Linked DNA regions of Homo sapiens: region 1 is linked to region 2. Evidence: fine-mapped expression QTL. A gene starts in region 2. The other region holds a variant in brackets. All regions are shown on one strand. Distances are from middle to middle.

Region 1 (4,396 bases), 20 kb before region 2:
TTCTCATGTTCTGCTTCCACTTGCTATTTTGGGACCTTAAGTCCTTCTGTTTCTGGATGTGTGTGCATAGGTGGGGGGACTGGAGGGTTCTCAGGGCTTCTTCCTATGAGATCACAAACATGATCTTCTTGAAATTACACATCTGCCCTGATATGGTTTGGCTGTGTCGCCACCCAAATCTCAACTTGAATTGTATCTCCCAGAATTCTCACATGTTGTGGGAGGGTCCCAGGGGGAGGTAATTGAATCATAGGTAAACCTGACAGTAAATAAATACCTGTCTTTCCCATGCTATTCTCGTGATAGTGAATAAGCCTTATGAGATCTGATGGGTTTATCAGGGGTTTCCGCTTTTGCATCTTCTTCATTCTCTCTTGCTGCCGCCATGGAAGAAATGCCTTTCACCCTCTGCCATGATTGTGAGACCTCCCCAGCCATGTGGAACTGTAAGTCCAATTAAACCTCCTTTTCTTCCCAGTCTTGGGTAGGTCTTTATCAGCAGCATGAAAACGGACTAATACATGCCCTTTCTTCCCCCTGCCTGGTGACCCCTGACGCTACTGGTGCCTGGATGGTCTCTGGCATGCTTTGAAGCACTGCTGCTGCTGTTGGTGCCAACTGTCTGCCCAAGCACTGTGGACTGTGCCATGCCAGACAGCGCTGGCACCCTCTGTGGGGCCTGATGTCGCATTACATCCTCTCTTAGTGTTGAGCTAAGTCCCCTTAGTGTTGCCGGTCCCCAGCCTGTGCTGCCAGGTGCTCCCCATGTCTTCCAGGGTATGTTAGTGGAATCAATCGTCATGGCCTTGCTTAAGGGGCTCCCTCCAGGACTGGGCCATAGGGGCATCTGAGTGGTAGACTCTGTGCAGAGCTCCACATTTTTTACCCATTGACTCTACGGGAACCAGAGTCAATGGCTGGGCCGAGCTTTCATGCTTTGGCTTCCTTGCCTTAGTGCAGGTTTTTTCCCCAGAATGCTCATTGCTCCCTCATGCTAATAGATTCCAGAAAAGAAATTCCTCCCACCTTTTATTCAGCAAATCTTTATGGTGGATCTGTTCCATATCAATACCAGGCACTCCACTGGTGCTGGGGGTACAAAGCTGAGCAGAAACAGGCGAGGCTGCCTTTTGCGGAGCTCCTGGTCTAGACGCTCCAGGGCTCTTAAACTACACTAGTAAATATGCATAAACCAGGCTGACGGAGGTTCTTAAGAATGCAATGACTCAGGTTTAATCCATTATGCATCAGTTTCTGTCATCCACTCCTGCTGGGATTGCTAGCTCATGTCTGTATCCAAGCACTTAAAACTCCTGAGTATTTGGAATAAAGGAGGAAATACGGGTAGAGGCATTTCAGACCATTTCAAAGTATAGGATTATTTCTCTTTGGCAATGAGATAACTATATGCACCTTGACATTCTACCTTACTATGTATATATTTTTAAACATATTCAATGGTATATTATTTTTATATATATTATAAAATAAATAAATGTTTCAGGAACATTGATAAGAATAACAGAACATGAAGAATTCAGCATGAATTTATTTATATATTAGATATTTTGAGTAAAATATATCTAGAAATATATATCATTATAAGTAACATAAATAATATAATTACTTTTGTATAAAATATATTGTAAATTAAATAACATTTTCTAGTCTAACCATATATCTCTTGGGGAGAAGGACCACAATATGAATGAAAAGCTGAAGATTAGGAATTTTAGATTGGAACATTTTTTCAATATTTAAAAATGGAATATTTAAAAATTGATAATATTAAGATTTTAGCAACACTTGTCGAGTGTTAGATAAGTCTGTAAAGCAGCAGTAGAGGGAAAAATGATCTCTAAACCATCCAGTGGGCTGGGCATGGTGGCTCACACCTGTAATCCCAGCACTTTGGGAGGTTGAGGTGGGAGGGTTGCTTCAGCCCAGGAGTTCAAGACCAGCCTGAGTAACATAGCAAGACCCCATCTCTACAAAAAAAAAAAAGAAAAAAAAAAAGTTAAAAAATTTTAAACCACCTAGCTTTCTAGTTGTGTCCTCTGACAAAATAATTCTCTTAACATTTTATATTGTATAAGATACAGAAATGATACATTTATTTATTGTCAGATTTACACAATGAGTGGCATGGAACTGAAATGGGATCTTAGGGTTTTTGAATTTACTGGACAACAATCTCATGCTTTCTGTAAAGAAAGTTGCCGCAACTATTTCACAGCTGGGAATGCATGCCCACAGGCTTTTCCAGAGCTGATGACGGGTTGAATATTTGTCTTGAATTCATTATTATTTGTTGAAAACTTGTACACAGTTTTGAGCACAGGCAGTAGTAGTATACTGGTCAGTGTTTAATCA[G/A]TTGCCTTTGTGGAGTGGGGTTGAGGAGTGGGGAAGTCCTGATTTGTAACATTTGCCAGTGTCTGTGGTGTAAATTCTCCCACTATGACCGATTTCAAGCTACCAAGGTGGTATCACTGAACACTGATAATGGAATTAGGAAGAGATACACACAAGAGACTCTTGTTAGCTGGTGTAAGCTGCCTTCACCTGTGTAGGTTATATCTGTAGGGTAGCATTTTTCTTTGTGATGTGAACAGGCAAATATAAGAAACTCATGATCTTGTTTAGTCTCTGTAGTGTGACAGTCTTTCTCTAACTTGTGACCTCCCCTGATATACCAGATAATGAGTTATAGTGTAACTATAGCCAAAGTTAAACAAATTATAGTCACTCTTACTATTTACTGCAACCTAATATATTCTATTCTGTCCCAATTAATTTAAAACAATTAATTATTTCACTATTGCTACTTTTTATTTATTTAACACATACATGACCATTCTATATGCCAAACACTATTTTTAAGTGCTTTACAGATGCTGACGAATTCCTTCACTGTGAGGTTGATGTCCCATTTCATCATTTATTGCTTGGCAATATTACTTGTCTTCCCTACCTCAGTGAGAGTATGTCAAAATAACAGTGTTTAGCTGGGTGTGGAGGCTCATGCTTGTAATTCCAGTGCGTTGGGAGGCTGAGGCAGAAGGATCGCTTGAGGCCAGGTGTTCAAGACCAGCCTGGGCAACATAGTGAGATCTCCATCTCTACAAAAAATTAAAAAATGAGCCAGGGCCGGGCACGGTGGCTCACGCCTGTAATCGCAGCACTCTGGGAGGCCTAGGAGGAGGATCCCGAGGTCAGGAGATTGAGACCATCCTGGCTAACATGGTGAAACCCCATCTCTACTAAAAATACAAAAAAAAATTAGCCGGGCGTGGGGGCGGGCGCCTGTAGTCCCAGCTACTCGGGAGGCTGAGGCAGAAGAAAGGCATGAACCCGGGAGGCGGAGCTTGCAGTGATTCAAGATCGCGCCATGGCACTCCAGCCTGGGCGACAGAGCGGGACTCCGTCTCAAAAAAAGAAAAGAATAAAACAAAAAAACAAAAAACGAACAAAACAAAACAAAAAAATGAGCCAGGCGTCATAGCGCATGCCTGTAGTCCCAGCTACTTGGGATTCTGAGGTGGGAGGATCGCGTTTGCCCAGGACATCAAAGCTGCAATGAGCCAGGATTGTACCACTGCACTCCACTCTGGGTAGAGAAAGACGCAGTCTCAAAAATAATAAATAAATAAATAAATGATGAAGCTGAAGTTCTGCTTTCTAAGGTTTAGTTCAGAGTGCTGTATTTGAATGGAAGCTGCTAGAAGGGTGAGAATCATACCTATTGATTGTTGCGTCTTCCACAATTCCTAGTACAGTATCTTAGACATTGTAAGTGTTTGAGACAGGGAATAAACGAATGGATGAATGAGTGAGCCTGTAGTCCCAGATAGTTGGGAGGCTGGGGCAGGAGGATCGCTTGAGCCCAGAAGCTTGAGGCTGCAGTGAGCTATGATTGTGGCAACAGAGTGAGACCATGTCTCTAAAGTAAATAAATAAATGAATAAAGAAATAAATAACAGTGTTTCTAATTTACCTTGAAGTGTATTTTAATTTATTGCCTTTTTCCCTTTGTCCTCTGAAATTATTATGACTACCACTGCTTTGTGTGCCGAATGTTTTTTCAAAAATCATTTTAAAAGGACTGGTAATTTTCTTCTGCTCCATATATTTTTCTCAGTGTTATGCCTAAATCATTCATTTTTAGATTCCTCTAACCATTTTCCCCTTGGGAGAAATAGATTTGGGGGATTACCCTAAGACTAGCCATATTTGTTTCTGAGTAATTATGTTTTGGCTGCTGTGAATTGGGTAACAATCTCTTTGCACATCAGCTGCCTCTGCTGACTTCTGTGTCTTCATTCTACTGCCTCACATTCGCCTCTAAGTTGCTACTTTTGCAACAACCTAATAAACTTAGAATAAAATCCAAAACTTT
Region 2 (4,396 bases):
TTGGAAATGTAACATTTGCGCATGAAAACAGGAGTGCCTGTTCCCACTTAGGTCCGTGGGCACAGGTCCGAGGGTGGAGCCCTCGCCAGGGATCCTGCCCTTCTCTACCTAGCACTTCTCTGCCTCCTGTCCCTATCAATTTTGCCCAGTTGGAAGCTAATGTAAGTGTTCTCAACACGTTTAAGGTAGGCTACGCTGAGCCGTGATGTTTGGTAGGTCAGGTGTATTAAGTGCATTTTTGACTTAGCATATTTCAACTCACATTGGGTTTAACAGGGCCTAATTTGATCATGAGTAGAGGAGCACCTGCAGTTACTTCAGTCAGTTCCTGTCCATTTGATGGCTGCTTAGATGGAGGGATGAATTCCTGGAGTTTCCCACACCACCATCTTCTGTGACATCCCTTCCCCAAGATTTGGATTTATTTTTTGCCCCAGTGGCCTCTTGTAGCCTGATAAATCTTTGTTTCAACGAGGTCAAGGTCATGGGGTAAATTCTTTGTGGGGTGGTTGGCTGCATTTTGTTTAAACTTCACAGATTTTAGTACTGATCCTAATTTTTAATTTTACTAATGTGATATACACACTTATGTAATTAAAAAACAAACCCTGGGCCAGGTATGGTGGCACACGTCTGTAATCCCAGCACTTTCAGAGGCCAAGGCGGGCGGATCACTTGAGGTCAGGGGTTTGAGACCAGCCTGGCCAACATGGTGAAACCCCGTCTATACTAAAAATGCAAAAAATAGCTGGGCATCATGGCACGCGCCTGTAATCCCAGCCACTTGGGAGGCTGAGGTAGGAGAATCGCTTGAACCCGGGAGGTGGAGGTTGCAGTGAGCCCAGATTGCACCACTGCACTCCAGCCTGGGCGACAGAGCAAGACTCTGTCTCAAAGAAACAAACCAACCCTGAATGTGATTATATACATAATTCAATTAAATGTATTTGCTTCTGAAATATATATAAATGTAAATTAGGCAGTCACTTTTGTATATGATTTATTTATATTTGAAAGCCACAAATGACCCATTTAAACTATTATTTTCATAAGCCAGTGAAACAATGTCTGAGAAACATTTTTGTTTTGTCTGTTCTGTTCTATAACCATCATTTTTTTTTTCAGTCATGTACAGCCTTAGTGACAAAGAAACTTTGGTCCTCTGTCCTACATTTTCACTATCTTTTTCCCTCCGGTCAGGATAATCTCAAATTTACATGTTAAAAACAATCAGTAAGAGAACTACATCACATTTCTAATAGGATGGAAACTTTTCAACTTTATCACAAAGACAACGAATGTGGAGGCTTTCCGTTTGAAGATAAAACTATTCATTTAAAAAATTTTAAAAATTACAATGTTTCCAGTAGCTTCTTTTTGAATTACTAACATATTCCACACTCTAGTAACGGTTTGGCCAGCTAATCGTTAGTTTCTGCTTTAAAATGTTCTAAATTCCTGTTCTACTTTTGAAAAATGACAACATAAATGTTTGGAGGGTTATTTTCTGCTTAATGAAAGATCTAGAAACATATTTTATTCTAAGAAAGAATTCCACTTGCCTTTAAATAAAGATATACCTTTTGACCAAACAATCAGATTTTCTTTTTCTTTTTTTTCTTTTCTTTTTTTTTTTTGAGATGGAGTTTCGCGTCTGTCGCCCAGGCTGGAGTGTAGTGGTGCGATCCTGACTCACTGTAACTTCCACTTCCCAGGTTCAAACGATTCTGTTGCCTCAGCCTCCTGAGTAGCTGGGCTTACAGGTGTGCATGATCACACCCGGCTAACTTTTGTATTTTTAGTAGAGACGGGTTTTTGCCATGTTGACCAGGCTGGTTTCAAACTCCTGACCTCGGGTGATCTGACTGCCTCGGCCTCCCAAACTGCTGGGATTGCAGGCGTGAGCCATTGTGCCTGGCCAGATTTTCTTTTTCTAGCAAGGGGACCCACTTAAACTTGAAGAGGACCGGGATGGTTGAGGCTGGGCAGCAAGGCTTTACTGCAAATCCTTTACCACTGTTTTTTCTGGCTTTCTAGAGAACGTTCTAGCAAAAGGTTTCTAGAACTTTCTCCTTCCTGGCCTGACTGACATTCCCTCTTAGGTGTAGCCTCCTTTTCACTTTTCTTCTGCCTGGAGGAAATGAAGCTCCACGGAACTTTCTGTTGAAACTTTCCAAGAAAAAAAAGAAAGGCTCTAAGCACTGAATGTGGAAACTGAAGGGGATGAGCTTCAACTCTGAAGTGTTTCCAGCGTAAAACTGTCCTTTCCAGGGCCCGTGTGGCTGTCACTTCAGAGTGGAGGTTGTCTGCTGAGGGACCCCTGACTCAGCTGCTTCCCAGGGGAAGCTCCGTCTTCCGGCACAGGTAATGGCCTGCAGCTTGATCTCCACCCAGCCCCATCTGAGCAGGCCGGGAGCTCCCAGGCTGTTTCACTTCTCTCCTTCCTGACTCCTCACCATCACCATCGCCCTCTCTCCTCCCCACCCCGCCACTCCTCTCCCACACGTGTCCCTTTCTCCCCTTCCTCTGCGTCTGCTCTTCTCAGAAGTTAGCTTACGAAGCAAAGTTGTTACTTTGAATTCCTGTTTTTCCAGCCACCCTCATGTGACAGGATGTCTCCTCAGTAGAGGCTTTCCCTAAATTCAGGAGCCCTTTAAAAGGGAGGGCTTCCTCTGTAGTTCTTTTCAGCTGGGCAGCTCTGGGAACTTGGATTAGGTGGAGAGGCAGTTGGGGGGCCTCGTTGTTTTGCGTCTTAGTTCCGCCCTCCTGTCCATCAGGAGAAGGAAAGGATAAACCCTGGGCCATGAGGCTACCCCTGCTCCTGGTTTTTGCCTCTGTCATTCCGGGTGCTGTTCTCCTACTGGGTAAGTCTGCTCTGAGGCAGGGGATCTCTGACCTGGGGGGCCGGAACCACACCTTCCTCTTCTGGGTTACTGTGAATGGGTTCCTTTCAACATCTTTGTGAGGAGGAAACGGGGTTCCCCTGCACCACGCAGTCCACGGCTAAGCCTGCTGCCTTCACCTGGCGGCCAGGCATGGGAGGCCTGGAGTTGGAGGAGGGAGGAGGATGCGTCTCAGGTCTCGGTTGCTGCCCTGCCGGGAACCCTACAGACCTTCAGTGTCCTCCTGACTTCTCTCATCGCTCGTTGTTCCTTCCCTGTTTTCTTCGTGCAGAAATTTCCTGCTCTGTGGTTTACTCTTTCTGGTTTTCAATTCACACTATTTCTGTCTCACCGCCAACAAACACCTTCTGAGTGTCTCTGGCTGGAAGGAGGGCAGCCCTGATGTCTCCCCGCGTCTTAGGTCCGAGGGTATCATCGCAGATCATCCCCCCAAAAGAGATTCTAAGCAATTTCCATACTCATTTTTTTTTCTGCCAGAATCATTCAGACACTTGATTGTTAGAAAGTTCATCCTTATCTGTATTCTAGACTATTCAAACTGCCGCATAAGCAGATCGATTCCTGTTTTTCTTCTTTTTCTGGAGATTAGAGATTACTCATTAGGAACAGCTCCAGAGTTGTTCAAATTCTCAAATACCTTTTCCAGTCTGTCTTTTCTATTTCTCTATACTCAGTTGCTTAAACTTCAGGATGGGAGTGCCTCGGGGGATTTTCATTCCTGGTTCTATTTGGAGATGATTTAGAAGAGATTTCAAATTTGATTTTTTGATTTCTGATCCCCCTTTAATTCTATGAAATCAACAAACACTTGCAGAGAATGGTTTGTGCCTACGATCTACTCTATGCACTGATGTGAAGGCGGGTGGGAAGTTTCCTAGGAAGAGAGTGTTTTAGTACCGCAAATGTTAAATCATAAGTATTGAGTGGTAGTGATTACAAAAACACAAGTGAAGGCGGTATGGTTTACATCCTGTCTCTCTCACTCACTAGCTTTGCGACCTTGGGCAGGCTACTTTATTTCTTTGTGCTTTAGTTTCCATGTCTATAAAATGGAAAGAATAATATTACCTGCCCCCATCAGTTCTTGTGATGATTCAATGAGTAACAATATGTGAAATGTTTAGAACAGAGTATGACCCATAGTAAGTGCCTTATAAGTGTTAGCTATTAAAATCAGTGGCAGAAAAGAAGTACATAAAAGGCCAAATAAAAAGGATAGATGAAATTAATTTTATTTTTATTTTTGAGACAGATTCTCATTTTGTTGCCCAGGCTGCAGTGCAGTGGCATGATCTTGGCTCACTGCAACCTCTACTTCCTGGGTTCGAGTGATTCTCCTGCCTCGGCCTCCCAAGTAGCTGGGATTACAGGCATGCACCACCATGCCCAGCTGATTTTTGTAGTTTTAGTAGAGACAACGTTTCACCATGTTGGCCAGGCTGGCCTCGAACTCCTGACCTCAAGTGATCTGCCCTCCTCAGCCTCCCAAAGTG

What was found. PIP is the estimated chance that this variant, and not a neighbour inherited with it, causes the effect. A credible set is the group of variants that fine-mapping cannot tell apart.
Region 1: its variant is the best candidate, but not a certain one, in a credible set for the expression of MRC1 in whole blood (INTERVAL, PIP 0.88).

Annotation. Positions count from the first base shown.
Region 1 is chr10:17,786,596-17,790,991 of GRCh38, forward strand. All of the region lies in intron 3 of TMEM236 (transmembrane protein 236), which reads left to right. Among named protein-coding and RNA genes, the nearest start is that of MRC1, 21 kb to the right of the region's middle. RefSeq lists an enhancer at 765-1,382. The variant G/A (reference allele first, on the strand shown) is at 2,374.
Region 2 is chr10:17,806,663-17,811,058 of GRCh38, forward strand. MRC1 (mannose receptor C-type 1) reads left to right here and starts at 2,686. Exons shown (of 30, transcript NM_002438.4): 1 at 2,686-2,864. The coding sequence starts at 2,804.